Homo sapiens: one gene and its partners. The protein of the gene in region 3 purifies or fractionates together with the protein of the main gene of each other region. This does not show direct contact. Each region holds a gene or a part of one and is shown on either strand. Other genes may lie near its edges.

The links.
Region 1: the proteins of FSD1 (region 3) and MIB1 purify together in Homo sapiens (affinity purification with mass spectrometry; 3 studies listed by BioGRID and IntAct, with this or other methods). This does not show direct contact.
Region 2: the proteins of FSD1 (region 3) and ARL2BP purify together in Homo sapiens (affinity purification with mass spectrometry; 3 studies listed by BioGRID and IntAct, with this or other methods). This does not show direct contact.
Region 4: the proteins of FSD1 (region 3) and ARHGAP1 purify together in Homo sapiens (affinity purification with mass spectrometry; 3 studies listed by BioGRID and IntAct, with this or other methods). This does not show direct contact.

Annotation. Positions count from the first base shown.
Region 1 is NC_000018.10:21,813,785-21,820,820, reverse strand, and holds part of MIB1 (E3 ubiquitin-protein ligase MIB1), read right to left. Parts: exon of another isoform or gene 6,926-7,036; coding exon of another isoform or gene 6,917-6,925; intron 5,206-6,916; coding exon 5,008-5,205; intron 3,198-5,007; exon of another isoform or gene 2,993-3,197; intron 1,327-2,992; coding exon 1,175-1,326; intron 1-1,174. UniProt on the Homo sapiens protein: E3 ubiquitin-protein ligase that mediates ubiquitination of Delta receptors, which act as ligands of Notch proteins.
Region 2 is NC_000016.10:57,248,259-57,254,135, forward strand, and holds the end of ARL2BP (ADP-ribosylation factor-like protein 2-binding protein), read left to right. Parts: exon of another isoform or gene 1-278; coding exon 279-385; exon of another isoform or gene 386-1,508; coding exon 1,509-1,594; exon of another isoform or gene 1,595-1,713; intron 1,714-2,152; coding exon 2,153-2,249; intron 2,250-3,445; exon of another isoform or gene 3,446-3,534; intron 3,535-3,907; coding exon 3,908-4,009; 3' UTR 4,010-5,377; downstream 5,378-5,877. UniProt on the Homo sapiens protein: Together with ARL2, plays a role in the nuclear translocation, retention and transcriptional activity of STAT3. May play a role as an effector of ARL2.
Region 3 is NC_000019.10:4,300,600-4,307,599, reverse strand, and holds the start of FSD1 (fibronectin type III and SPRY domain-containing protein 1), read right to left. Parts: upstream 3,003-7,000; 5' UTR 2,854-3,002; coding exon 2,839-2,853; intron 1,655-2,838; coding exon 1,559-1,654; intron 1,403-1,558; coding exon 1,271-1,402; intron 1-1,270. Other genes in the region: TMIGD2 (transmembrane and immunoglobulin domain-containing protein 2 isoform 1 precursor), read left to right, coding at 5,215-5,260. UniProt on the Homo sapiens protein: May be involved in microtubule organization and stabilization.
Region 4 is NC_000011.10:46,676,620-46,683,655, forward strand, and holds the end of ARHGAP1 (rho GTPase-activating protein 1), read right to left. Parts: intron 5,564-7,036; coding exon 5,432-5,563; intron 4,761-5,431; coding exon 4,674-4,760; intron 4,491-4,673; coding exon 4,392-4,490; intron 4,129-4,391; coding exon 4,021-4,128; intron 3,945-4,020; coding exon 3,868-3,944; intron 3,664-3,867; coding exon 3,586-3,663; intron 3,158-3,585; coding exon 3,029-3,157; intron 2,850-3,028; coding exon 2,746-2,849; intron 2,607-2,745; coding exon 2,418-2,606; 3' UTR 461-2,417; downstream 1-460. UniProt on the Homo sapiens protein: GTPase activator for the Rho, Rac and Cdc42 proteins, converting them to the putatively inactive GDP-bound state. Cdc42 seems to be the preferred substrate.

The DNA of each region.
Region 1 (7,036 bases), on a different chromosome or scaffold from region 3:
ATTAAATTCATCTCTATAAGCCTCATATTCTTCACGTGTAAAATGAGGATATTAACACCTGCCCCAAAAAGCTGTTGAAAGGATTAAGTGAGATGATGCATGTGAAGCACTTTGCAGAGGCTGGCATGTGGAAAGTGCTATCATAATCTTCTGTTTGAAGGGCAGGGAAATATAATACTACTGTCTTCTTCACAATGCCAAAATCTGAAGTGTTCAAATATTTGCAATTTGGAAAAAAAATCAAGATGTGATCTAAAATATGATCATTCATTTTGTCCTACAATATATACCCACTGTTACAGTTACCAATAAGCAGTAGCAATAAAATCCTTTTGTTTCCTGTGGTCACCCTCTAGTGGTGATCCTAAGAAGCTAAAGGAAACATGATATAAAAATACAATAAGGAACCAAAGAATAAGTGTTCAGAATAGATAAAATTATCAAAATAAAAATCAAAGTGAAGATTTTTCTTAGTCCAGGTATACAGGTTTGACTCAAACATAAACAGAAGACATCCAATGCAGAATTTCCTAAAATGCTTAGGGTAAAGTTGTTCCAAAAAGTGAGTTAATGGAAATCTCTAAATTAAGCAAAGCTAAGCATTTTCCCATTCTGTGGGACACCGCAGATCCTTCATAAAGAATGTGATTCTCCAAAAGGAGTCTTTCTCAAATGTCAACCAGCAAATACTTTTTTCAGTAGAATACTATTGCTGTAACAATGGATGAGGGGATAGCTATACTAGAAGTTTATATAACTAATTACATTATTAATAAGGAATTAGGTAACTTAGTATTTATTTAGTCTTAAGTTTTAAAAAATAATTATCGTGCAAATGGCAACATGAAATTAGAGGACACCCAGATAATTATTTTGAAGAAACATAAATCTCAAAATAAAATGCATTTTAATTAAATCTTTAGAAAGAAACTAGTATTCCTGATATTTTACAACCACATTTAATATAAACTTAAATAATCATTTCATAATATTTGTATTAGATTAACAACCAAATAATCATCATATAAAACTAAAGGCATAATATTCACAAAACTTTAAAATGATTTAAAATACTAAAATAGCCAAAATTATTTCTTCATCAGTATCAGAAAAAGAGAATCAACAGTAGGAAAATATTTTTGAATTGCACCTAAAATAGTAAGGGGTGACATACCTGGGATTTCCCCTTAGTGCAGCATGATGCAGAGCATTAAATCCATTATTGTTTGTGATGGTAACATCTGCTCCAGCTTCCAAAAGAACTGCTAGGATATCATCACGTTTCTTACTTATTGCATCATGAAGAGGGGTATCACCTTCAGAATCCTTTAAGTTTAAAGAAATTTTCATTAGTTCTTCAATTAATTATCCCATCTAATAGTAATACTTACACCAAATGCTAAGCAAACAGAAGCAGAGACCACATCCAACAAATACCAATAAAAGAGCACTTTCTGTGATAACTACAAAAATATAGGCAAAGGCTGGGCATGCTGGCTCATGTCTGTAACCCTAGCACTTTGGGAGGCTGAGGCGGGAGGATCAGCAGAGGCCAGGAGTTCAACACCAACCTGGGCAACATATAGAGACCTTGTCCCTACAAAAAATTTTAAAAATTAGCCGGGCACGGCGGTGTGCACCTATAGTCCTAGGTACTCAGGAGGCTGAGGCAGAAGAATGGCTTGAGCCCAGGAGTTCAAGGCTCCAGTGAGCTATGATCATGCCACTGCACTCCAGCCAGGGTGACAGAGCGAGACTCTATCTCCAAAAATATAAAAAACAAAAATACAGGCAAGAAACACTGGCCACATTATAGTAAGGAAAGACATACTCAAATCTAGTTGGAAAACAAAATAAGCATGCTGGAATTTTTTTTTCTTTTTTTTGAGACCAAGTTTCGCTCTTTCACTCAGGCTGGAGTACAATAGCGCGATCTCAGCTCACTGCAACCTCCACTTTCCGGTTTCAAGCGATTCTCCTGCCTCAGCCTCCCAAGTAACTGGGATTACAGGCACCCACCACCATGCCCAGCTAATTTTTGTATTTTTAGTAGAGACGGGGTTTCACCACGTTGGCCAGGCTGGTCTCAGACTCCTGACCTCGTGATCTGCCCACCTCAGCCTCCCACAGTGCTGGGATTACAGGCGTGAGCCACCTTGCCCGGCAAAGTTCTTTTTTTGTAGAGATGGGGGTCTCAGTATGTTGCCCATGCTGGTCTTGAACTCCTGTGCTCAAGTGATCCTCCCACATGAGCCTCTCAAGGTGTTGGGATTACAGGCATAAGCCACCACTCCTGGCACATGCTGAAGCTTTACAAAGCAAAAAGAAAAGAAAAGAAGTAGCCTCAAATATAACTAATGACAAAAACCAGTGAAGTGATAAAGCTGCCCCCCAAATTTTATAAGTTTAAAATGGCCTTAATTGTCATACCCTGAAATTCCATACCAAACCTACACCATAACAATGAATTGAAAGTCGGTGGCTTTCAAACTTGGCTGCTCATTAGAACCTGCTGGGGAGATCTTTTAAAATCTGTTGTACAGAGGAAAAAAAAGAGAAAAAAAAATCTGATGTCCAGGCTGTTCACCATACTAAATCTCTAGAGGTGAGAGTGAGGCATGAGTAATTTTTCAAAGCTCCACAGATGAACATCTTGTGCAGTCACAGGTGAGAAACATTAATCTAAGCGTTTTCAAAGGGCAGCAAAGTGGCTAGTTAGCCAAAGGTAAAACAATTGTAAATTAAAATTTAGCAATCTCAGTCTACCATTTTTTCAAGCTGACTACTTTTTACATTAATCAATTGACTTAGCAGTAAGTTTTTATTCATTAGCAGTCATGTACAGACATGAATAATTTAAATTTCATTCATTTCATAGTTGAACAGATGCTATTCTCAGTAAAGTCATATACAACCTGGCCTACAGCATATACTACAGTTGCCAAATTCAGTTTGCCACTTGTTTTTTGTTTGTTTTATTCTTTTTTACTAGACATATTTCCTGCATGGTTTGTCTCCCCAGTCACTGTCCACAGGATTCTGAGAAGCTACAGGAATATGAAAGTGCAAACACCAGACCCAGCTTCATCTCCAACACTGAGGAAAGGGACTGTACATCATGGGGCAGAGCCCTATGCTCCCCTAAGCCATGTGGACAAAGCCTAGAAAAAATGATATCCCAGGATATTACACATTGGAGCCACCTGTTTTTGTAAATTAAGTTTTATTGGAACACAGCCACACCCATTCATTTATGTATTATCTATGGCTGCTTTCATTCTGCAATGAGAGTTAGATAGTTGTGGCAAAAGCCAATAAGCCACTATTATCTGTGCCCAATATAGAAAATGTTTGCTAATCCCAGGAATATATTCATCCACCTACATAAAGAATTCCTGCTAGGCATGGTGGCTCACACCGGTAATCCCAGGACTTTGGGAGGTGGGAGCAGGAAGATTGCTTGAGACCAGAAGTTTGAGACCAACCTGGGCATTTCTACAAAAAATTAGCCAGGCATGGCAGCTCACACCTGTAGTCCCAGCTACTCGGGAGGCTGAGGTGGGCCCTGAAGGTTGAGACTGCAATGAGCCATGATCACGCCACTGAATTCCAGCCTGGGCAACAGAGCAAGACCCTGCCTCAAAAAAAAAAAAAAAAAAAAAAAAAGAATTCCTAACCCAAGTTCAATCCAACCATCTACCATCTACCTTCTACTCCTGTATCTGGCGGCACTAAAAATCTGTAGTGTTCAACCTGAAACGGGCTTCTAACATGATTGGAACACCCTTCTGCAGGTCCCCAAGTCCTTATCACTCTTCTCAATTACTCTTTCTCTACCCACCACTCTCAACAGATGAACTTGTCTCCCATTTCAGACAAAAAACGTCAGCAGGTATAAATCACCTCTCCTTACAGATTAACACCCCCCCAATTCTTCCCTCATCCTCCAATCCTGCCTCCCACTTACAAGGACATACTCTAGATCCCAACAGTTCCAAAACAGCTGCACTTCAAAAACCTTAATTTCTAATAATTATCTAGCTGAACAAAATCTATTCTTTCAGTTCTTCTCAAGCCCTCATTCCCACTACTACTGTTCTTTATTTCTTCTCTGAGATCTATCCAATCCAGCAACCAATTCCTGGATGCTGTAAATTATCTAAACTACAAGCAGCTTATGATTCTAACCACTGCCCTACTTTTTAAAAAATCATTATTGAGTTTCCAATGGAAACAAATTATGTTTTACATATTCAAATAGTATTTCAGGGAACACTTTTATTTAAAAATAATATGTTGTTTCAAGCCTATTCGGTTAAGGAACCTAAAAGTTGGCAAATTAGATTCAGGAGCTACAAAATTACTAAGTATAGAAACTTTAATCAAACAGGTGCACAAAAGACAAGTTGCTTAGTAACCAAACTAAGCAGAAAATGGACACAGACTACATTTTCTATATATTTGTGGTTTAATTTATCTGGTTATAAAACTGTAGCTGGGGATAATCATTTCTTAGGCAATCATTGCTTCAAAAATTAGATCCTACTGTAAATCAACTCTAAAATCCTATACATTTTCCAAAACAGAAATCTCCGAAGATTACACTAACGACTATTCAAAGTCCCTAAGCTACAATAAAAGCTACAATTAAAATAATTTAAATAGTTATGAAGTAACTATTATGAAATATAGCCTATTACACTTCTTTAAGCTGTTGAGCTCACTGTCATGATCAATAAAGTTAAATCCATTCATAAGCTGATATTTTTACAAAGAAGTCCTCATTCTCCCTGCCCAATCAAAACCCAATCTATTGGCATTTTCCCTAAAAAAAAACAACTTTTTAAAAAAGAAATAGCTGCCAATTTTGTAACATCTTACGCCTTTGGTATCATTTACTATGACATATGAGAACGGTAACAAAGGAATGCTTACCATAGAACTTAATGTTTCCCTTTAATAGGATCCTAGCAATACCTGCAGGATGTGTTTCTTTAAAGGTTTTACCTGGAGACTGGGATGACAGCCAAAGTCCAATAAAGTCTTCACAACTTGAAGATGACCTTTATTGACAGCAATATGAAGTGGTGTCTGTCGGCGCTTGTTTCGAGCATTCAAATCAGCACTACCTCGATGTAGTACTTCTATAACAGCGCCTTCATCTCCAAAAGCTGCATGGTGAACTGCTCTATCACCATCTTTATCCTAATCATTAGTATTGAAATGTGAATTAGTGAATATTTTAGAAAGAAAAAAACCTTGAAGCTATAATAATATACCAAGAAGCAGATTAATTTGAGAAAAGGCAATGTAGGAAACAACAAAATAACTAGAACTTGACCAGGTGCAGTGGCTCATGCCTGTAATCCCAGCACTTTGGGAGGACAAGGCAGAAGGATCACTTGAGGCCAAGTAAACTGTAAATGTGAGTAAGATTTCCAACAATACCAATCTGGGCAACATAGCAAGATCCTGTCTTGTAGAGAGAGCCAGGCATGGTGGCACCCACCTGTAGTCCCAGCTACTTGGGAGGCTGACACAGGAGGATTGCTTGAGCCAAGGAGTTTCAAGTTACAGTGAGCTATGATCGCACCACTGCACTCTGACCGGGGCAACAGAGTGAGACCCTGTCTCTATAAAAAAATTTTTTAAAACCTAGAAACTGACTTGAACAGTGACTAACTCCCAAAGATAAATGATAAACTTAGATCATTTTATATATATGTATTTATTTATTTATATATATACATTTATATATAATTTTATATATATATATATATATATATATATATATATATATATATATATAAAACCAACAGCTTGAACTTTCAGCATTCCTCATTTATCAGCCATGATGGTAAGCCAATTTTTTTTGACATTTAAAAATTTTTACAAAGACCATTTTTGTTGTTGTTGTTGTTGTTGTTTTTAAAGAATCAGGGTCCTAGGCCAGGCGCAGTGGCTCACACCTGTAATCCCAGCACTTTGGGAGGCCAAGGCGGGCGGATCACCTGAAGTTAGGAGTTCAAGACCAGCCTGGCCAACACGGAGAAAACCCGTCTCTACTAAAATTACAAACATTAGCCAGACATGGTGGCACATGCCTGTAATCCCAGCTACCCGGGAGGCTGAGGGAGGAGAACTGCTTGAATCCGGGAGGCAGAGGTTGCAGTGAGCTGAGATCGGGCCACTGCACTCCAAGCCTGAGCGACAGAGCAAGACTGCCTCTCAATAAAAAAAGAATCAGGGTCCTGTTCTGTCACCCAGGCTGGAATGCAGTGGCAGTCATAGCTCACTGCAGCCTTTAACTCCTGGCCTTAATAAATTCTCCAACTTCAGCCTCACAAAATGCTGGGATCATAGGTGTGAGCCACCGTGCACGTCCTACAAAGATGACACAAAAAGTAAACTAAGATGAGTTGTGTGATTGAAAAAAAAAAAAAGAATGCCAAACAATGTGATCTCAACTGGCTTTAATGGGGAGCAATTTATCAACACATTAAAACTGGTTAAGTGATGAGCATACATTTTTCTGTATATTCGAGAACAGAAAAAAAATTAAATACACCATTAAAAGATAAAAACGAAGCATAAACTACCAAAATTCCATATATCAAAAATTCCAAAACTATTTCAGAAGAATCAAATAGATTTGCCTCACCTCCTGTAACAGGCATATTTCTGAAGAAATGAGAAGGCAGGAAAGACCAAATTGCTTAAATTTTTTAAAACTAAAAGAAGGTACTTTATAAAGGGGAAAAACTGCCTGCACTGCGCCATGAAGGTAGTATACATAGCTTATACCAAAAAGTATGAAAAGAAGTCTCACTGCCTTGCCAGAAGCAGATGGAAAAGGGTAGTAGGTATAAGCGTATTGCATTTATTCCAATACTGCATTGCAAATTTTAACACCCACCAAGACCATGTGTCTGTCCCTGATCCTGGTACTCTAAGACTTCCTCCATCCAAAGCAGTGGTTTCCGATTCCCAATACCACTGTGCCAGCCCCTGGTGGACTCCCTAGTTTTGCAAGGGG
Region 2 (5,877 bases), on a different chromosome or scaffold from region 3:
ACCGAGATCGCACCATTGCACTCCAGCCTGGGCAACAAGAGAAACTCCAGCTCAAAAAAAAAAAAAAAAAAAAAAAAAGAAAGAAAGAAAAAGAAAACAGGAGGATTGGGCTATTTCCACATCAGGGTCCCATTTAATACCCCCTTAAAACATCAGCTTTCCTTCCAGAGACTGATCATTGAGAAAGCAGTACTGCTGACATAGATCCTGCCTACTTATAAATCATAATGGTTGGTAATCTCCATTAAAAAGAATAAATTTTCCCCACTGTGGTTCAGATGACGAGTTCCAGTTATTACAGAGAAATTTCATGGACAAGTACTACCTGGAGTTTGAAGACACAGAAGAGAATAAACTCATCTACACACCTATTTTTAATGAATACGTAAGTAGATTTCTATGTCTCCTACCAGGAGGTCAGAGTTTTTAAAAATTTAAATTTAGATTCAAAAGACATTGAAATTTGCTGCCTTTTAAAATATGCCACCAGTACACTTCCAGGAATCCTCATTAGCATCTGGTTTAAGTTCATTTTCCTCTGCACAGCCTTTGGGGCTATTTTCCAAAAGGCTTTCAGGCAAATATTTGATTAACTCATCAGCTTCTTATTTAAAAGAAGTTTGACCTGGGCTTGGTAGCACACCTGTAGTGCCAGCTATTTGGGAGGTTGAGGTGGAAGAATCACTTGAGCTTAGGAGTTTGAGACCAGCCTGGGCAACACAGCAAGATCTCTGTCTCTAAAAAAAAAATGATAATAATAAAGATAATAAATAAAAGACGTTTGGCTTATCATAATCCTGCTTTTAATCACAGTACATGAGTTCTTCATACCTTGCATTTGCATGCTTTTGACAAACCTTTCTGCTTTCACATACTCTTTCTTTCTTCTATATAATCCAGTCATATATGCATGACTATTAAGTAAAAGTGAAAACTGAGACCAAGATCACTAACTATTTGGTGGAAAAACCAAGACTGGAACCCAGGAACCTCAGCTCGTCACCCTTGGGTCTCTACACTTTACCCTGAGGCCTCTTAACAGCCCCCTGGGATTCTGTCATCTAAGAATCCATTTTGGCCTCCAGGACTTTATTTTCTTAACACAGAAGCATGGCATAAACAAACCTGCCCAGAAGGAACCTGTGACTGCCTCCATGTCCGTATGTTCTGTTACACAGATGCCCTCTACCCAGGAGGCAAAGCCCCCACTTACTGCATCCTGCACTGGGTTGTGGGTGTGGGTACCGTGCTACTCACTGTCTCCACCTGTGTCAGAGCATCCACCCTGTTACAGCACCATTATCAGCTAAGGCTTCTCTTCCACACCAGGCTGAGTACTTCTCCAGGACAGGAGCTGTGTTTTGGTCCTCTTTGGTATCCTTGGCACTCAGTGTAGATTGTGGCACACAGACCTCAGGAAATGTTTAGAAAGGGCTGGGCAGGCTTTCTGAAAAGAAGTCTTGTTTTCCCAAAGTATGGTCTCACCAAAATCCTTTCCACTGTTGCAGATTTCTTTGGTAGAAAAATACATTGAAGAACAGCTGCTGCAGCGGATTCCTGAGTTCAACATGGCAGCCTTCACCACAACATTACAGTGAGTTGAGCTTGACTGATTTTTGTGTTTTGTTTTGTTTTCTCACTTTCTTCCTTCCCTAGGCTGACCAAAAGACGCTCCTTGTTTGTTTTCCTGTGCATGCCGTTGGTGGTTAGGTCCTATGGAGGAAGCCCTCAAACCTTTTAATGAAATCTTGAAAAGATCAGGCATTGGCTCACGCTTGTGTTCTCAGTGCTTTGGGAGGCCAAGGGAGGAGGATCACTTGAGCCCAGGAGTTCAAGACCAGCCTGGGTGACATAGTGAGGCCCCGACCCTACAAAAAATAAATTAGTCAGGTGTGGTGTTGCATACCTGTGGGCCTAGCTACTCAGGAGGCTGAGGCTGGAGAATCCCTTGAGCCCAGCAGTTCAAGGCTACAGTGAGCTATAATTGCACCCCTGCACTCCTGCCTGGGTGACAGAGCAAGACCCAGTCTCTAAAAAAACAAAACAAAAATAATGCGGGGGGTGGGGCTGGGGTGGTGGAAAGAAAAACGAAAGCAATCTTGAGGACTGTCTCATCATTCATTCACGAAACAGCCATCTGTTCCGTTTGCAGGCACCATAAGGATGAAGTGGCTGGTGACATATTCGACATGCTGCTCACCTTCACAGATTTTCTGGCTTTTAAAGAAATGTTTTTGGACTACAGAGCAGTAAGTTACTACTCCTATTTATTTAGCCACTTTGAGCCACTTAGAAAATTCCAGGTAGAAATACCGAACATGAACCTCCCACGCTTCCCCCATCATTCTCCCTTCAAACTGGCCGATGAGGCATCAGAAGAGTGAGCTGCTATTCTGTTGTGGCTGGGACCTTCTCATGTTTTCATGAAACAAGCCCAGGTACCAACTTAGAGTTCCTAATCAGAAGGACAAAACCGAAAAAGCAGGTCTCAGGTCTCATTCTGCCTTGCCTTTCTTTTATTTATTTTTTTTTTTGAGACAGAGTTTTGCTCTTGTCACCCAGGCTGGAGTGCAGTGGCACCATCTTGGCTCACTGGAACCTCTGCCTTCCAGGTTCAAGCAATACTCCTGCCTCAGCCTCCCGAGTAGCTGATACTACAGGCACCTGCCACCACGCCCAGCTAATTCTTGTATTTTTAGTAGAGACAGGGTTTCACCATGTTGGCCAGGCTGGTCTCAAACTCCTGAAGCATGGTCCGCCTCGGCCTCCCAAAGTGTTGGGATTACAGGCGTGAGCCACCGCACCTGGCCCTGCCTTGCTTTTCATATAATGCAAGCTCTTTATAAGAAAAATAGGAGACTGGGCATGGTAACTCACACCTATAATCCCAGCACTTTGGGAGGCCGAGGCAGGCAGATGGCTTGAGCTCAGGAGTTTGAGACCAGCCAAGGCAACATGGCAAAACCCTGTCTCTATGAAAAATACAAAAATTAGCTTGGTGTGCTGGTGTGCATCTGTAGTCCCAGTCAGCTACTTTGGGGGCTGGGTGGGAGGACCGCTTGAGCCCAGAAGGTTGAGATTGCTGTGAGCTGTGATTGTACTGCTACAGTCCAGCCTGGGTGACAGAGTCAGACCCTGTGTCAAAAAAAAAAAAAGAAAAGAAAAAGAAATGGTGTTGGGTGTGGTTGTGCATGCCTGTAGTCCCAGCTACTTCGAAGGCTGAGGCAGGAGAATCACTTGAGCCTAGGAGTTTGGGGCTGTATTACACAGCAGTGGTGCCTGTGAATAGCCACTGCACTCCAGCCTGGGCAACATAGCAAGACCCCTATCTCAAAAAAAAAAAAAAAGAAAGAAAGAAAAATGTTTTCCAGTGAAGGGAGGTACATTTTAAGAGTGCATTTTAAGAATGACCAGGGCCAGGCTGGACACAGTGGCTCATACTTACAATTCCAGCGCTTTGGGAGGCCAAGGCAGGAGAATCACTTGAGCCCAGGAGTTCAAGACCAGCCTAAGTGACATATCAAGACCCTGTCTCTACAAAAATAAAAATAAAAAAGTTAGTCAGCTGTAGTGGTGCACACCTGTAGTCCTAGCTACTCAGGAGGCTGAGGCAGGAGGACCACTTGAGCCCAGGAATTCCAGGCAGCAGTTAGCTGTGATCAAGCCACTATACTCCAGCCTGGGTGACAGAGCAAGACCCTACCTCTTTAAAAATAATATTAAAAAAAATTAAGACTAGGGCAGGCCAGTATTGAGCAGAAATGCAGAATAACCAATAACCTGTGTTCCCTTCCTATGTACTCTGGAGGTCCACGTTCCCACCTTCAGCTCTGCCTTCCCCATGTCAGAGGCAAGATTCCAAGCCAGGGCTCTTTCTAGTCCTTCCTTTGGTTGTTTTCTCATATAGGAAAAAGAAGGCCGAGGACTGGACTTAAGCAGTGGCTTAGTGGTGACTTCATTGTGCAAATCATCTTCTCTGCCAGCTTCCCAGAACAATCTGCGGCACTAGGTCCTACCTCCAGCCAATGAATGGGATCATTCTGGATGTCACCAGCCCAATAGGCTCAGCTCATGATGACAGAACACATCTTGGAAAGACTGACTCTGTTATGTAACTCTTCATTTATGTTAAGTATTAATAGGTCAAAACCAAAATGACCTAACCCTCCTGGACCTATTTATCCTGAAACACCTTCTTGTATTCATTAACCATAGTACTCCTCCCCACCTCAAGTAGACACCTCTCTCAGGAGCTTCTGAGTCAGACGCCTCTGGAGCGAGCCCTATGTCAGGCACTCCACCTGGGGGGCCCTTCCCCAGCATACCTGCTGGTGTGTAAGTGTGGACTAACCCGCCGCCACCACCCTCTGTTCCAGCAGGCTCTGCATGAATCTTTGTGCACTTGCACCTCTTTTTCACATGGGCCACAGTTTCAGTACTTCAGCCTCAGTGGGGTTCCTGATGTTTATCTAGGGTGTTACTCAAGCCCAGTTTGAGATTTTGGAGTCTCCTGTGATCACATCTTGTCTCGGCTGTAGGAATCAACAGAAGGAGACGTCCTCTACATAAAAGCTCCATGTGAAAAGCTACTCCTAGTCTTAACATTTGCAGTCCTTGTGTCACTGTCTTCTGGTCCTGATGTAGTCCCACTGTTTCTAGAAGTCTCTTTTAAGCATTATTTTTGAAAAAAAAAATATTTTTATAGATGAATACTCAGGCTAACCTAGTGGATGTGATCTTGGAACTTCCATGATTATCCACTTAAAGATCAAAGTATTATATGCTGTGTGCTTTTTAGGTGTTTGTTAGTACTGTGAAGGCAAAAATGCTTTCTACATTGACATTCATTCCTATTTTACTGGGCACCTATGAATGTATGCTGTGTGCTAGAAATAGACTAAAACATATTCCTATAGCATGTTAGTGTGTTTGCATGTTTGCTGAAAATCCTTTGTGTATAAACCAGTTTGTAAGGTTCTCTGGGTTAGGTAGGGACTCTGCAGTTTCTTCCTGTCAAAATCTCTCCTACCAAGATGGTGTTCCACTGTCCAGCCCAGCATGAGTAGCAGGTAGAGCACAGCTTTACTGGCTGTTTGTATGCTTTGGTTTAGTGCAATGTGTGGTAGATTACTTATCAGAAAACATATATGTCATCTCTAGAACGAAGAAAAAGCATAGTAGTTCAATTCCCAGTGTGTCCCTTTGATTTTTTTTTTTTAATAGTAAAAATAAGAATCTGTACTGACTTTTCACTTGGCCATTCTGGTTTTAAAGGACAAGCTACAAGCTCTGTGTTTCTGTACTGATGTGTCACTTATTAAATACTTTTGTACCATGAGTAAAACTTCAGGTGTTTCGCAAGAACCACCATTCTCAATGAGTTGTATTCTTTCTTTAATGTAGCCACTGCCATAAGGTTATTAATTATTGCTTTGGTCTTTTTTTTTTTTTTTTAAATGCCACCTCTCCTGGGCTTGCTTTCCCTTGCTTTGTCTATAAATGGGAGGTCCACCACAGCCCAGGCATGCTGGGAGCACTTGCTAAGACCTGTGGACCAGCCTGCCTACTTGAGAAAAGGCCAGTGGACAAGTCCAGAGATTAAATGATGAAAAAACGATGATAAAGGCAAATTGGTTTTTCACCCTTTTTTTTTTCTTTTTTTTTTGGGAATGGAGTTTTGCTTTTGTTGCCCAGGCTGGAGTGCAATGGCACGATCTCGGCACACTGCAACCTCCACCTCCCGAGTTCCAGTGATTCTGCTGCCTCAGCCTCCCAAGCAGCCGGGATTATAGGTGTCCACAAACACGCCCAGCTAATTTTTGTATTTTTAGTAGAGACAGGGTTTCACCATGTTGGTCAGGCTGGTCTTGAACTCCT
Region 3 (7,000 bases):
GTCAGGAGTTCAAGACTAGCCTGGCCAACACAGTGAAACCCTGTCTCCACTAAACATAGAAAAAAGTAGCTGGGTGTGGTGGTGGGCACCTCTAATCCCAGCTACTCGGGAGGCTGAGGCAGGAGAATCACTTGAACCCGGGAGGCGGAGGTTGCAGTGAGCTGAGGTTGTGCAACTGATCCAGCCTGGGTCACAGAGAGAGACTCCATCTCAAAAACAAAACAAAACAAAAAAAACTCACATGAGCCAGGCACAGAGGCTCATGCCTGTAATCCCAGCAATTTGGGAGGCCAAGGCAGGAGGATCGCTTGAGCCCATGAGTTCAAGACTAGTCTAGGCAACATGGTGAAAACCAGTCTCCACCAAAAAATACAAAAATGAGCTGGGCGTGGTGGCACCTTCCTGTGGTCCCAGCTACTTGGGAGGCTAAGATGGGAGAATCGCTTAAGCCTGGGAGGCGGACGCTGCAGTGAGGCATGATTGCGCCACTGGACTCCAGCCTGGGTGACAGAATAAGACTCTGTCTCAAAACAAAACAAACCAAAAACTCACATGCCTAGGCCACATCCGAGCTCCAGGGCTCTAGATTCCCCCTGGGACAGGAATCTGGGATGTCAGGAAGTTGCCCAGGAGGTCTGGATGCAGCCTGTGTGACTCCAGCTTGGAGTCTGAGTGACAGCCCACGGGAGCCATGGGTGGTGTTTGAGTGGAGGTGATACCTTCAGATCTGGGGGGCCAGTGGGAAGGGCTGAGAAACCGGAGGCACTGAGTGAAGACAGGAGGGGAAGATCTGAGCCAGACTCGGGGACGCCGTGATGGAGAGGGGATTCAGAGAGAGCACAGATGGGCCAGGCGCGGGGGCTCATGCCTGTCATCCCAGCACTTTGGGAGGCTGAGGCAGGAGGATCACCTGAGGTCAGCTTGGCCCACACGGTGAAACCCCATCTCTACTAAAAATACGAAAATTAGCCCAGCATGATGGCGGGTACCTGTAATCCCAGCTACTTGGGAGGCTGAGGTAGGAGAATTGCTTGAACCCAGGAGGCGGAGGTTGCAGTGAGCCGATATCATGCCACTGCACTCCAGCCTGGGCGACAGAGCGAGACCTCCGTCTCAAAAAAAAAAAAGAGAGAGTGTACAGGTGGATGGAGGGGTCAGGGGAGAGATCAGAAACTCGAGAGCACCCAGTTTTTGGAGGAAGGTGCCGAGGTCAGCTACGTTCTGTTGAGTAGGAGGGGCGGGGGGAGAGGAAGATGCCCTCAGCCCTCACCTGCAGCTCGTAGGTACGGCTGGCACGGTCCTGTTTTATCTTCATAAGCATGCCTTCTTTCAGCTCCTCCAGGAGGGAGAAGAGGGACTGGAACTCTGCTTCGAGGTCCTCCTGCACCTTCGCCGAGTTCGCCTGGGTCGGAACAGCCAGAATCGGCCAAAGCCCGTGTTCAGAGAGGGAACCTGAGACCTCCCACAGGCATCAACAGCAATGGGCCAGTTCCTAAGGCTGCACCCTCCAGCTTCCTCCCCTCCCCTTACCTCCCCAGGACTGCCCCACCGCCTTCACCTCCACGTTCAGCAGCATCTGTTTCAGGGAGTAGATAAAGCTCTGAATTTCTTCATTCTTCACAGCCAGTGTTTTGATGATCTTCCTCAGGGCCTCCTGCACCACCAGAAGTGTGGACACACACAGGTGCACACACACATGTGCGCACACAGGTACACACACGTGTACGCACATGTACACACGTGCACACACATGCACACACGTACATAAATGCACACGCGTGCGCACACACATGCACACACATGCGCACACACACACGGCAGGCAGGTGAGCCCGTCAGCCTGGCCAGGCTCCCTGACCCGCGCTCCCCTCCAGGGATCCAGAGAGGAGATGTGGGGGCTGCCACGCTATTGAGCTTGGGCACCAGCCAGGAGGTAAAGCTCCGGGCTGATACAATTCACCCATAGCAGCTGGGCGCCCTAAGCTACCCCATATTACAGGAGAGGAAACTGAGGCTCACAGAGAACCTCTCAGGAAGGGACAGACCCTGGCCCCGAACCAGGCGTGCTTGAGCACAAAGGCTACAACCCGATACCTACATCCTGAAGGTGGGGCGTGAGGGGCTAGCCTGAGGACAGAAAACCCCAGAGGAGAAGGATGTCTGCTGGAAAATGGGCTAACCTGGGGAAAGGGTTCTCGGTGGAAGGAAAAACCCCAGGGAGGTGGGATAGCCTGGGATAGGGGCTAGCCTCGGAACAGGGGTGGGGCCTACCTGGGGGAGAAAGATAAGCAAGGAGAAAGAAATTACCTGGGCAAAGGTGGAACCTGGGGGCCAGGGATGCGGGGGCGCCAGGTAAGCGGGGAGGGGGCAGGGAGGTCTTGGGGAAGGGCAGGGGATTCTGGGAGGGAGGATCCCGCTCGGGAGCCTCTTGCTCTGACCCAGGCTCCAACCTGCTCCTTTTTCCTGGGGCAGGGTCGGTGGGGTCCGCACTGCGGAGCTGGCGGGGCGTCTTCCAGGGGTGGGGCGGGGGGCCGGGACGCCTGGTCCGCGGCCAGGAGGGAGGGCGTGGGGGATGGGGGTCAGGGATGGGACTGGGATACTGGGCAGGGTGGGGGGGCGTAGAAGGCACGTGCCTGGCCCCAAGCCAAGATGTGGGGGGGCTGCGTCCCAAACTGGGGTAGGGGGGCTAGATCCGGGCGGGGTCGCGAATGGGGTGGGGCCTCAGCCGCAGAGCAGCTGGGGTGGAGGCGGGGAGGGAGTGGGGGCGCTGCGGCAACACCTGGTCCCCTTCCCCGCCCCCGACGCCCCTGCGGGCCCGCCCTGCCCCACCCCGTCCTACCCTCTGTTCTTCCATGGCTGCAGCCCAGGTCACCCCGGCCCGGCCCGCGGGCCCCGCGCACGCTGGGTCCCCAAGCTGCCTTTGCCGCGGCCGGTAGCCAATGGCCCGCCGAGCCCTCGCCGCCGCCGCGCCCCCGGTTAGCGCTCCATCACCGCGCGCATTGCGCAGGCGCACCCGCCGCGGCCGCCTGGGAAATGTAGTTCCGCGCTGGCCTCGCCCAGAGCCCTCACATCCAGCGCCTGGGGCTCACTGGGCGGTGTTGGTGGTGATATGTGAGCTGGAGAGAGCCTTGGATGAGAAGACAAGGGGCTCGACCCCTGGCCCTGCCGTGGGACCTCAGAATCATCTCTAATGCTCCCGTGCCTCAGTTTCCCCACTTGTTCACTCACACAGGTTATCCGTTGCTACTCAAATTGTCTAGCCCGCCTGGCATTTACTGAAAATCTAAGGCTTTTGCCCAAGAGGGTGTTTAGCCTCCAGTGCCTTCTTTCCATTTGTCCCTATGTCACAACTGAACTCCTATACACCCCACAAAGCCCCAGGCTCCAACAGCTCCTCCAGAAGTCTCCGTGCCAGCCCAGGTGCGGAAGCTAAGAATGTCTGGGTCCAGCTTTGGAAGGACCTGGGGGCTAATCTATCCAGGGTCCCTCAGCAGACGGTGGGGGGAAGGGTGGAGCTTCAGAATGTTCTGGGGAGGGGAAGGAGTGGGTAGGGGAGGCTGGGCGGGTGTACGTGTCTGCAGGGGAGGTGCAGGCATAGCCACCGCAGAACCTCCCTGTGGTGGAGGGGAACGCTGTGTACGATGCAGGCCTTCTAGGTCCGAGTGAGAAAGGAGGTCACTCTGCAGTTGGGTCTGAGACATTGAGGTCTGTGGGTTCGCCACCTCCTCCCAGAATGCACTACAGAATCAGGGGTGAGGGATGCAGGGCTGGGAGGAACTCGAGAGCCCATGAACCTCCTCCACGGGACCCCCAAGCAGGTCATGTAATAGGACCCAAAGTTATCAACAGAAATCTATTTCTCTGAACCTCAAAGGAAGATTTTTTAAATTATTATTATTATTTTTTTTTAGAGACGGACTCACTCTGTTGCCCAGGCTGGAGTAACGGGGCGCAATCATGGCTTACTGCAGCCTCCAACTCCTGGGCTCAAGCGGTTCTCCTGCCTCAGCCTCCCGAGTGGCTGGGACTATAGGCATGCACCATCACCCTGGGTTGGTTTTGTATCTTTTTTTTTTTTTTTGAGACACAGTCTCACTCTGTCGCCCAGGCTGGAGTGCAGTGGCAGGATCTCGGCTCCCTGTAATCTCCATCTCCCCAGTTCTGGCGATTCTCCTGCCTCAACCCCACTGAGTAGCTGGGACTACAGGCGCCCACCACTAGGCCCAGCTAATTTTTGTATTTTTAGTAGAGACCGGGTTTTGCCATGTTGGCTAGGCTGGTCTTGAACTCCTGACCTCAGGTGATCCACCCGCCTTGGCCTCCCAAAGTGCTGGGATTACAGGCCTGGGCCACCATGCCCAGCCTGTATCTTTTTTTTTTTTTTTTTTTTTTTAATAGAGATTGGATCTCGCTGTGTTACCCCAGGTTGATCTTAAACTCGGCTCAAGTGATCCTCCCACCTCAGCCTCACAAAGTGCTGGGATTACAGGTGTGAGCTACAGCGCCCAGCAAAAGAAAGACATTTTGGGAGCAAAATAATTGAGGCAGGGACCCTGTCATTTAACTCACTGCTCAGGCCTATGTCGCCTGCCCCTCCCCCACGGAGCCACCTGCTCTCGCACTGTGTCTTCCTGTACCTAGATGTGTTTATGTAGAGCCTTCCAGAAAGCTCACAGGGGTGGATTCCTCCCACTCACTTGCATACACTGCCTTTCTTTTCTTTTTTTCTGAGACGGAGTTTCACTCTTGTCGCCCAGGCTGGAGTGCAGTGGCGTGATCTTGGCTCACTGCAACCTCCGCCTCCCGGGTTTAAGCCATTCTCCTGCCTCAGCCTCCCAAGTAGCTGGGATTATAGGCGCCCATCACCATGTCCAGCTAATTTCTGTATTTTTAGTAGAAATTAGTAGGGGTTTCATCATGTTGGCCAAGCTGGTCTCGAACTCCTGACCTCAGGTGATCCACCTGCCTCGGCCTCCCAAAGTGCTGGGATTACAGACATGAGCCATGTTGCCTGGTCCGTACACTGCCTTTCAGATAGAAAATGCATTGGGGAAACTGAGGCACGAGGTGGCAGGAAGTGGAGCCCCCAGCAGGCTGGAACACCGGACGTCTGTTGTCTGGCCCTGGGTGTTGCATCTGCTTCTGCAGCGGGAGGCGGAGATTGTGGCAGGAAGTCTGTCAACTGGGAGGGGGAGAGGGGGGTGATGGGCCAGGAATGGGGTCCCCGGGCATGGTGCTGGGCCTCCTGGTGCAGATCTGGGGTGAGTATCTGGGCCTCCCTCCCCTCTGAACCCCACTCTTGCTGTCATCCCCAGCTGCCTGCCCCCCAGCTCAGGGCCCCTCTAAACTTCAGTCTCTCTACTGTCAGATAAGGCCCATCTCCCTCCGAGACTCAGAACGTGATGGGGGCTGGAGGATTAAGGAAGGATCCTCTGAGGGCCCCTAGGATACAATCTAAACCTTGCCCTACATACCAGCCTGGCCTGGCCTCTCTCATCTCCACCCTCCGCAGTGCCTTTGCTCCCTCCCTCTTGCTCTAGCCTGGGGACTTTTCTTTCTCTGTTTCCGCAATGGGAAGGCTGGATCTGGCCTTCGAGCCTTTGCACCTGCTGTTCCAGCTGCCTAATACCCTTCTCCAGATCTCATGTCTCTACCCTCCTCTGCAATTGCATCTCAAATGCCAGGAACTTCACATAACCTCAACTTCTCCGGGGGTCTAACAGACACGTCAGACTTCTCACAGCTAAAAGCAGACTTTCTACTCCGGCAGCAGCTCCCTCTGTGTTTCCAATTAAGGACAAAGGCTGCTGCCCTTCACACATTTCCTGGGGCGAAAACCTCCATTCCTCTTTCCCTCTCCTCTGATTCCAGCCGCTTGCACTTTTTTGTTGTTCATTTGTGTTTTTTTGTTTGTTTGTTTTGTTTTGTTTTGAGAAGGAGTCTTGCTCTGTCACCCAGGCTAGAGTGCAGTGACGCGATCTCGGTTGACTGCAACCTCTGCCTCCCAGGTTCAAGAGATTCTCCTGCCTCAGGCTCCCGAGTAGCTGGGACTGCAGGCGCGCGCCACTGCGCCTGGCTAATTTTTTTTGTATTTTTAGTAGAGACGGGGTTTCGCCATCTCGGCCAGGTGGGTCTCGAACTCCTGACCTCATGATCCACCCACCTTGGCCTCCCAAAGTGCTGGGATTACAGGCGTGAGCCACCGTGCCCAGTCATTTTTGTTTTTTAGAGATGGGTCTCACTATGTTGCCCAGGCTGGTCTTGAACTCCTGGCCTCAAGCAATCACCCAGTCTTGGCCACCCAAAGGGCTGGGATAACAGGCATGAGCCACCACACCCAACCAAGGTCTTTTTATTAAAACTTAAATTGGAGACTGAGGCAGGTGGATCACTTGAGGTCAGGAGTTCCAGACCAGCCTGGCCATGTTGGTGAAACCCCATCTCTACCAAAAATACAAAAATTAGCTGGGCGTGGTAGCGAGTGCCTGTAGTCCCAGCTACTCAAGAGGCTGAGCCACAAGAATCACTTGAACCTGGGAGGCAGAGGTTGCAATGAGCCGAGATCACACCACTGCACTCCCACCTGGGCAACAGAGTGAGACCCCATCTCAAAACAAAAACAAAAACAAAAACAAAAACTTCAATTGGACTATTTCTTCCCTGCTTTCTGATTTTCCATCACACTTACATTAAAACATAAACTGCTTAACTTCCTTCACCTCCCCACACCACCCCAAGGCTCACAGGCCCTGCCCAACCCTTCCTCCCTCTCTCCCTGTCCTCACTCTGCTCCAGCCACACGGGCCTCCTCGCTGTTCCTCCAACACGCCAGGCACAGTCCTGCCCCAGGGCCTTTGCATGGGCTGTGCACTGCCTGGAATGCTCTTACCCCCCAATACCTTCCTTCTCACACTGGTTATACCTTTCCATTAAGATCCCTGGTCAGGCTGAGCACAGTGGCATGTACTTGTAACACCAGTAATTTGGGAGGCTGAGGTGGG
Region 4 (7,036 bases), on a different chromosome or scaffold from region 3:
GAGCCAGTGATGATGACTGTTAGCGGTGAGAGCTGGCACGTGAGGGAACGAGGACTCAAACTCTCGTGTGACTCCAGATCCCACACCATTGTCCATCACAGTCCACACCACTTTTCTTCCCCCTGCTTGCCTTAGATAAATCTAAGATCCCTTCAAACTTCCGGTACCTTCCAGTTGGGAAACAGGAGAGGCCCTGGTCATAGGATGCAGCACATGGTGGCCTGCTGGAATGCTGGGGGTACAAACAACGGGAAGGTGGCCGTGGACACCTCCATGCCTAGAAGCTGGTCAGGAAGCTGCCCTCATCACCACTCGAGTGCACAAGATGAGGAAGCGGCAGACGGACTGGGGAGGGGACTTCCTGAGGCCCCATCTGTTCCTCTTCCTCCACCGCACCACACTTCCCATCCAGTTTCCAACTTCCACACCCAACTCATTTCCCCAACATCCAGATGAGCAGTTTTGCATCAACATTTTTATTGAAATACAAAAAGTGCAAACGGTGAAATACATGATTGGTGCCAAGGAAGTCATTAAGTGTGAATGTGAACACTGGATTCACACAGTACAAGCACCCGCTCCCTGGGGTACAGACCAGTGGGGGACATGAGAAAGACCAAATAGATCCGAAAGGCTCCCCAGTGAATGGGGCTGTGAGCGACACTTGATACACAAAGGAGGGCGGAGAGCAGAGCAGCCCTGGCCGAGGCTAGAGACCAAGGGACTGATGAAGAACCAGCAGCAGCCCAGGCCCCAGGGGGCTGGATGCACTGCTGATGGTCTTGGGAGAGCCCAGCGAAGTTATGCCCAGGCCCAGCCTGGCTTGCGGATGGGGCTGGGCTGGTCAGTGAGGATCCCCACAGTACGGGCTCTGGAATCATCCTGCCTGGCCAAGGTCATGGGGGCAGGGTCACTGCAGGTACTTCCCTGTACTCCCCAAGGACAAGGCTGCAGGAAGAGGGATCCCCAGGAAGGAGTGTAATTCTACGAGACAGTGGGAGTGAGATCAGCCATCACTGGGGCCGAGGTTCTTTGAAAGACAACAGGGCTGGCCGGGTGCAGTGGCTCACGCCTGGAATCCCAGCACTTTGGGAGGCCGAGGTGGGTGGATCATGAGGTCAGGAGATCGAGACCATCCTGGCCAACATGGTGAAACCCCGTCTCTACTAAAAATACAAAAATTAGCTGGGCATGGTGGCATGCACCTATAGTCCCAGCTACTCAGGAGGCTGAGGCAGGAGAATTGCTTGAACCCAGAAGGCGGAGGTGTGCCGAGATCGCGCCACTGCACTCCAGCCTGGTGACAGAGCGAGACTCCATCTCAGAAAAAAAAAAAAAAAGGTGGCCCTAGAGCCCCTTAATCCCCTGGGGAAATTGCTAGAACCCACCTATCTGGACTGACCTATCAGCACAATCTCTGCCCCTCCTACGGGCACTCTTAGTCTCTACCCCAGCCCCTTTAAGAGTCCCCCAGCTGGAGGAAGGAGCCATAAGATCCTGAGGCACTGAGTCACCTCTGGCTGGGGCAGGGGCCAGTGTGACTCCGTAACAGACAGGTCCACAAGAACATGAAGGCTGATGATCTGCCCGTGTGGGAAAGGAGGCCAAGAGGGGAGAGGCTAACCTGGCCGGTCACTGATTCCATCACACGCTGTAGCTCTCGGGGGCGGGGAGGTGGAGAGGGAGGTTTCAAGTGGATGCTGGGACTCTGAGCCATGTCATCCAAGCTACCAGTCCCTGCACAACCAAGGGGTTAGGACACCCCAGGGGCAGTATCACTTGGGAAAGGCTGACCCAGGATGTGTGGAAGAGGAGGCAGAAAGCAGACACAGTCTCCAGCCCTGTCACTCCTCAGCAGGGGAAATACCCCAGACTGCGCTGCTGGGGGCAGTACAGGAGCAAGGGTGCTTGCACTCAGGCCTTCATGCAGTGGGGCTTCTGCAAAGCAGGGCAGCCTACCAGATAGGGAGGCACCTCAGCTTGGGGCGGTGTCCACACCAAAGAGCTCAGCTGCTCATTCCCAGCAATCAAGAGGGGAGGACTGGCCCCTGCTACCAGCCCAGCCGGCAGTCATTTGATTCATCCACACTTGCTAGGGAAACAGAGGCAGGAAAAAGCAGGAAAGGGGTTACTGGGGCTCAGTCCTTCTCCAGCTGGAAGAGCCAAGCCCAGCTCTGGAGAGCCCAGCAAAAGCCCGGTGTCCAGAGAGGCAGTGAGAAGTGTAAGGCAGAGAAAAACGTCTTCTGGTAACAGCGAGGCCGCCAGGGCCGTGAGGCGGGCTGGACAGAGGTGGGGGAGAGCATGCCTGATGGGTGGCTCCAACATCTCTCTCCAGGGGGCTTCATGGCCCCTGATGCCAGGAGGAAGAGTCCAAACCCGGGCTACCAGAGAAGGGGCTGGTGGGGCAGGGGCCAGGTTCAGAGCCCGCTGGGGTCCGGGCTTGGGAACAGCTCCCCTTGGTGATCCAGAAGGAACTTGGTGAAGGTGTTGATGGGATTAATGGCCTTGAGGGTGATGGCCGCATCCTTGGCCCACAGCAGGTTAGGGCCGAAAACAACAGCCAGGTTAGTGTTGGTCATCTTGTTCTGGTCACTGTGTGCAGAAATCTGTGGAGGGAATCAGGGACTGCAGCAGGAAGCCACAGATGCTGCCTCCCACTCCCAGCAACAATGACCAGGGCGCAGAGGAGGCGGCAGCTCCTCCTTCCCCCTCCCTTCACCCCAGAGGCCAAGTCCAAGGTCTCACCTGCACCAGGAAAGCAGTCAGGAAACGAAGCACCTGGTAGTTCTCCTCGGGCAGCGTCTGGAGGACCTGCAGTGTCGCTGGCACCCTCTGGCTTTCATCAATGTCTATGAGGAAAGGAGGCCCGGGTTATAGGGGCCCTAGGCTGGGCTGGTTCAGGACGCTCTGATGCAGGCTAGAGGGGAGACCCCCAGCAGTCTTCCCTGGGAGGCGCCTAGGCCCGAAAGCCTGCAGCGCACCTGCCCCAAGTCCAGCCCCAGGCCCAACAGAAGAGATGGGGACTCACTGAGGAAGCCCACCACATGGGGGTAGAGGTCAAAGGTGAGCAGGGGCTCAGGAAGCTCCCGGAGGAAGGTCTTGAGGATGACTGCTGGCAGGTGCAGCTCATTGTACTGGTCGAAATCCACAGGCAGCCCTGGGGTGGGGGCAGCGTGAGAGAAGCTCGGCACAGCCTGAAGGGCAGCACCCATCTGCAGACAACGCGGGCCGCACTGCCTGACTGCCCCTGGACACTGCATAAGCCCCTCCTCCCAGGGGCGCCCTCTGACACCTGCCTCCCTCTTCCTCTGTGATCAGAGAATGCAGGTTCCGGCCATCTGGGGAAGTGGGGCCCGGCACACCCCACCGTTATTCCTTGCCTCTGAATGTGCCTATACCCAGGACCCGGGAGCCCGACCGATGAGGCAGCAGGCCTGGCAGAAGTAGGACTTATGTGACACCCAGAGCCACGGAAACCTCCAGCAGGAAGAGACTCTGAGACTCTCATTTACAGGGCAGCAGAGGGCAGAGAAGCCCCCTACCAGTAACACACATATGGCCCTGCAACAGCCCAGGGCTGCTCACCCATGTTGTACTTCTGCTGCACTTCCCGGACCACTTGGGTGTTGGCCGACCTCCGGAAGATGCCCTCGGTGGTGAGAGCTGGGAAACAGTAGGGCCTGGTGAGCCTCCGAGCGCTGGGCACCGGCTGGATTCCCTGCCCCTTCTCTGTCTTGGGGTTCTAGGCAGGGCTGGGTGGGGACGTTGAGGCTTGCAGGACCTCCCTCTGCCCTGCCCAGCAGCTTCCCCAGCTTCCTGAAGGGAGCCGGGAGACCTGGCTGGTGAGGAGGCAGGCCCGGCACTCACCGTGGGCCTGTAAGTAGGCAACAGTCTCCCTGAGTACAATGGGAATGGGCTCCTGCTCTGGATTCTTCTCCTGGAGGCTGCGGGAAAAAGGCTGGTGAGCCGGGCCTGCAGCCCTTCCCGCCCCGCCGTGGCCCAGCCACCTTTCATACTTACTGCTGCAGCGAGACTCCAAACTGCTGGTTGGGCAGGGGGGGCCGTGGGGGCATGGGCTTGGGGGCTGTCGCGGGGCTCTTCTGTGTGGATTTCAGGAAGTCGTCATATCTGTAGGAGTAGAGGGAGGTGGGTCAGGTCCTGCCTGGCTCTGGAGTCACTCTGCCAATTCAATCAAGCATTGACCACGCGGGGTCAGGAGGATCATCTCATGCGATCTCTGTAACAACTCCGCTTTCCACAGCAGAAAGCAAAGACCTGGGAGAGGTCGGGACACGGGCTTGCTCTGCCTAAGCCCCACGCGGTCTCTGAATCAGGACACACGTCCTCATTACCCTGGCTTCACGAGCCCCCAGCCGCCGCACCCGCCTCACTTGAGCACTTGGCGAGGGATCCCCAGCTGCTCCAGCTTCACGTGCTCGCTCAGCTCGCTCAGGTAATTCACATAGAAGATCTTCTGCCCGAACTTGAAGCTGTTGGTGGAAGAAAGGGCCTGGGTTGTGGGGGCCCGCTTCCGGTGGCCTCCACTCTCCCCTCAACACCCACCCAGTTCAGACGGAAGCCCAGCCGCACCTGGTGGTCCCCAGGCTGCCCAGCCTCCCAGCTTCAGAGTTCCAGGCAAGCCGGGACCACCAGCCCTGCCCGTGGCCACTCACCTGATGAGGGGCTTGAAGAGGATGAGCAGAGTTTTGATGAACATGGTTGGATGCACGATGTACAAGGCCTTGATGTTTTTCTTGTACCTGCAGAGACAGAATGGACAACTCAGGAGCAGGCGTGGTGGGACAGGTGCCACGCTAGGGTCCCAGTGCATACTTTTTTTTTTTGAGACAGAGTCTCCTTCACCCAGGCTGGAGTGTGATCTCAGCTCATTGCAGCCTCCACCTCCCGGATTCAAGCTATTCTCCTGCCTCAGCCTCCTGAGTAACTAGGATTACAGGCACCCACCACCACACCTAGCTAATTTTTGTATTTTTAGCGGAGACAGGGTTTCACCATGTTGGCCAGGCTGGTCTGGAACTCCTGACCTCAAGTGATCCATCCGCCTCAGCTTCCCAAAGTGCTGGGATTACAGGTGTGAGCCACCACACCCTGCCTCAGTGCATATTTTCTGATTTGAACATGCATGGCCAGCATGCGAGGTAAGGGCCATCACTGTCTCATTTTACAGATTAGAAAACAGGAGGCTCAAAGAGGTTAAGTAAAACAAGAGGTCAGAGTGCAAATAAGCTGAGAAACTGGGCCTTACTTAAGCCCAGGGTGATCTGACTGCAGATTCTTTACATTGACGTAGACGGCAGCCCCCGCCACCCCCTGCCTTGGAATAAGCTCCTGCCCAAGTGGAGGGCAGCCCGGAAGCTGGCAGAGCCGCTGCCTCTGGATCTGACTGTGCAGGCCCCATGCCCCAACCCACTTGCGGTCAAACTCCCGGTAGGCATCACGGAGCCAGCTGAGGGAGGGCTTGTTGTCGCTGGTCAGGCCGTGGTGCAGATACAGAAGTGTGTAGTCACTCTCCACGTACTGGTCCAGGGTGTGCTTCAGGTACCTTCCAGGGAAAAGCCCTGCTCAGGCCTGCCCTGTGCACAGGGGCGGCCCCACGAAGACAGAAAGCAGCCCCAAGAGTCTCCCACCACGTCACAGCCCCTTCCCCACAGGCCCTCCCCTAGCACAGTCTGTTCTGGCTCATAATCAGTCACCAGGTTGCTGTGGAGGAGGCCTAGGGTAGAGGCTGGGCAGAGGAATGAGAATAGTAATAACAGCTCTCAGCCGGGCGCAGTGGCTCATGCCTGTAATCCCAACACTTTGGGAGGCCAAGGCGGGTGGATCACCTGAGGTCAGGAGTTCAAGACCAGCCTGGCCAACATGGTGAAACCCCATCTCTACTAAAAATGCAAAAATTAGCCGAGCATGGTGGTGCAGGCCTGTAATCCCAGCTACTCAGGAGGCTGAGGCAGGAGAATCGCTTGAACCCAGGAGGCGGAGGTTTCAGTGAGCAGAGATTGTGGCACTGTACTCCAGCCTGGGCAACAAGAGTGAAACTCTGTCTCAATAATAGTAATAATAATAACAGTTCTCACTCTTGAGCAGGAACTAGATGTCAGGAGACCAGGACCCTAACCCGGGCCTGCCTAGGCCTGCAGTGAAAAGGGGAATGACGTTTCCCCTGAATCAGGGATTTCTCTGAATCAATAATAATGATGACAGTCACCATTTCTCAATATTAAGTTTTTAGTGTCTGCCAAGCACTTCACATACATTAGCTCATACATTGCTTATAACTGAGGCTGATGTAATCCCCATCCTACAAATGAAGGCAATGACCAGAGAGGTCAAGTGCTGATCCAAGGTCACACAGCTTGTGGTAGATCCTGGAAGTGAAGTGTCTAACACCAAAGCCTGCTTTTTTTTTTTTTTTTTTTTTGAGACAGGGTCTTACTGTCACCCAGGCTGGGGCACCGTAGCGCAATCACAGCTCACCGCAGCCTTGACCTCCCAGGCTTAAGCTATCCTCCTGCCTCAGCCTCCTGAGTAGTAGGAACCGCAGGTGTGAGCCACCACACCCGGCTCTTTTTTCTACTTTTTATTTTGTAGAGACAGGTCTCACTATGTTGCCCAGGCTGGTCTTGAGTTCCTGGCCTCAAGCAATCCTCCCACCTCAGCCTCCCAAAGTGCTGGGAGATTACAGGCATGAGTCACTGCACCTGGCCGAAAGCCTGCATTCTTGACCATGGGACAGCTTTGCCTTCTACACATGAACTCCAGTGCCGGCGGTAAAACACTGTGCCCATGAGAGGGGATGGGGTGGCCAGAGAGTCACCTGCTCCAGTCACTGGGCCTTTAGTGGACCAAAGAGCCCCAATTCCTCTGGTTCCCTATTATGCTCATGACACGCTATCTACCAGCTCAGCACAAACATATACACACCTGGTGTTGAGCACACTGAGAGTTATGGATGGAATGAACAAGAACTGGGGAAAGGGAAGGGAGTGTGTGTAAAGCCCTCTCCTTTTTTTTTTTT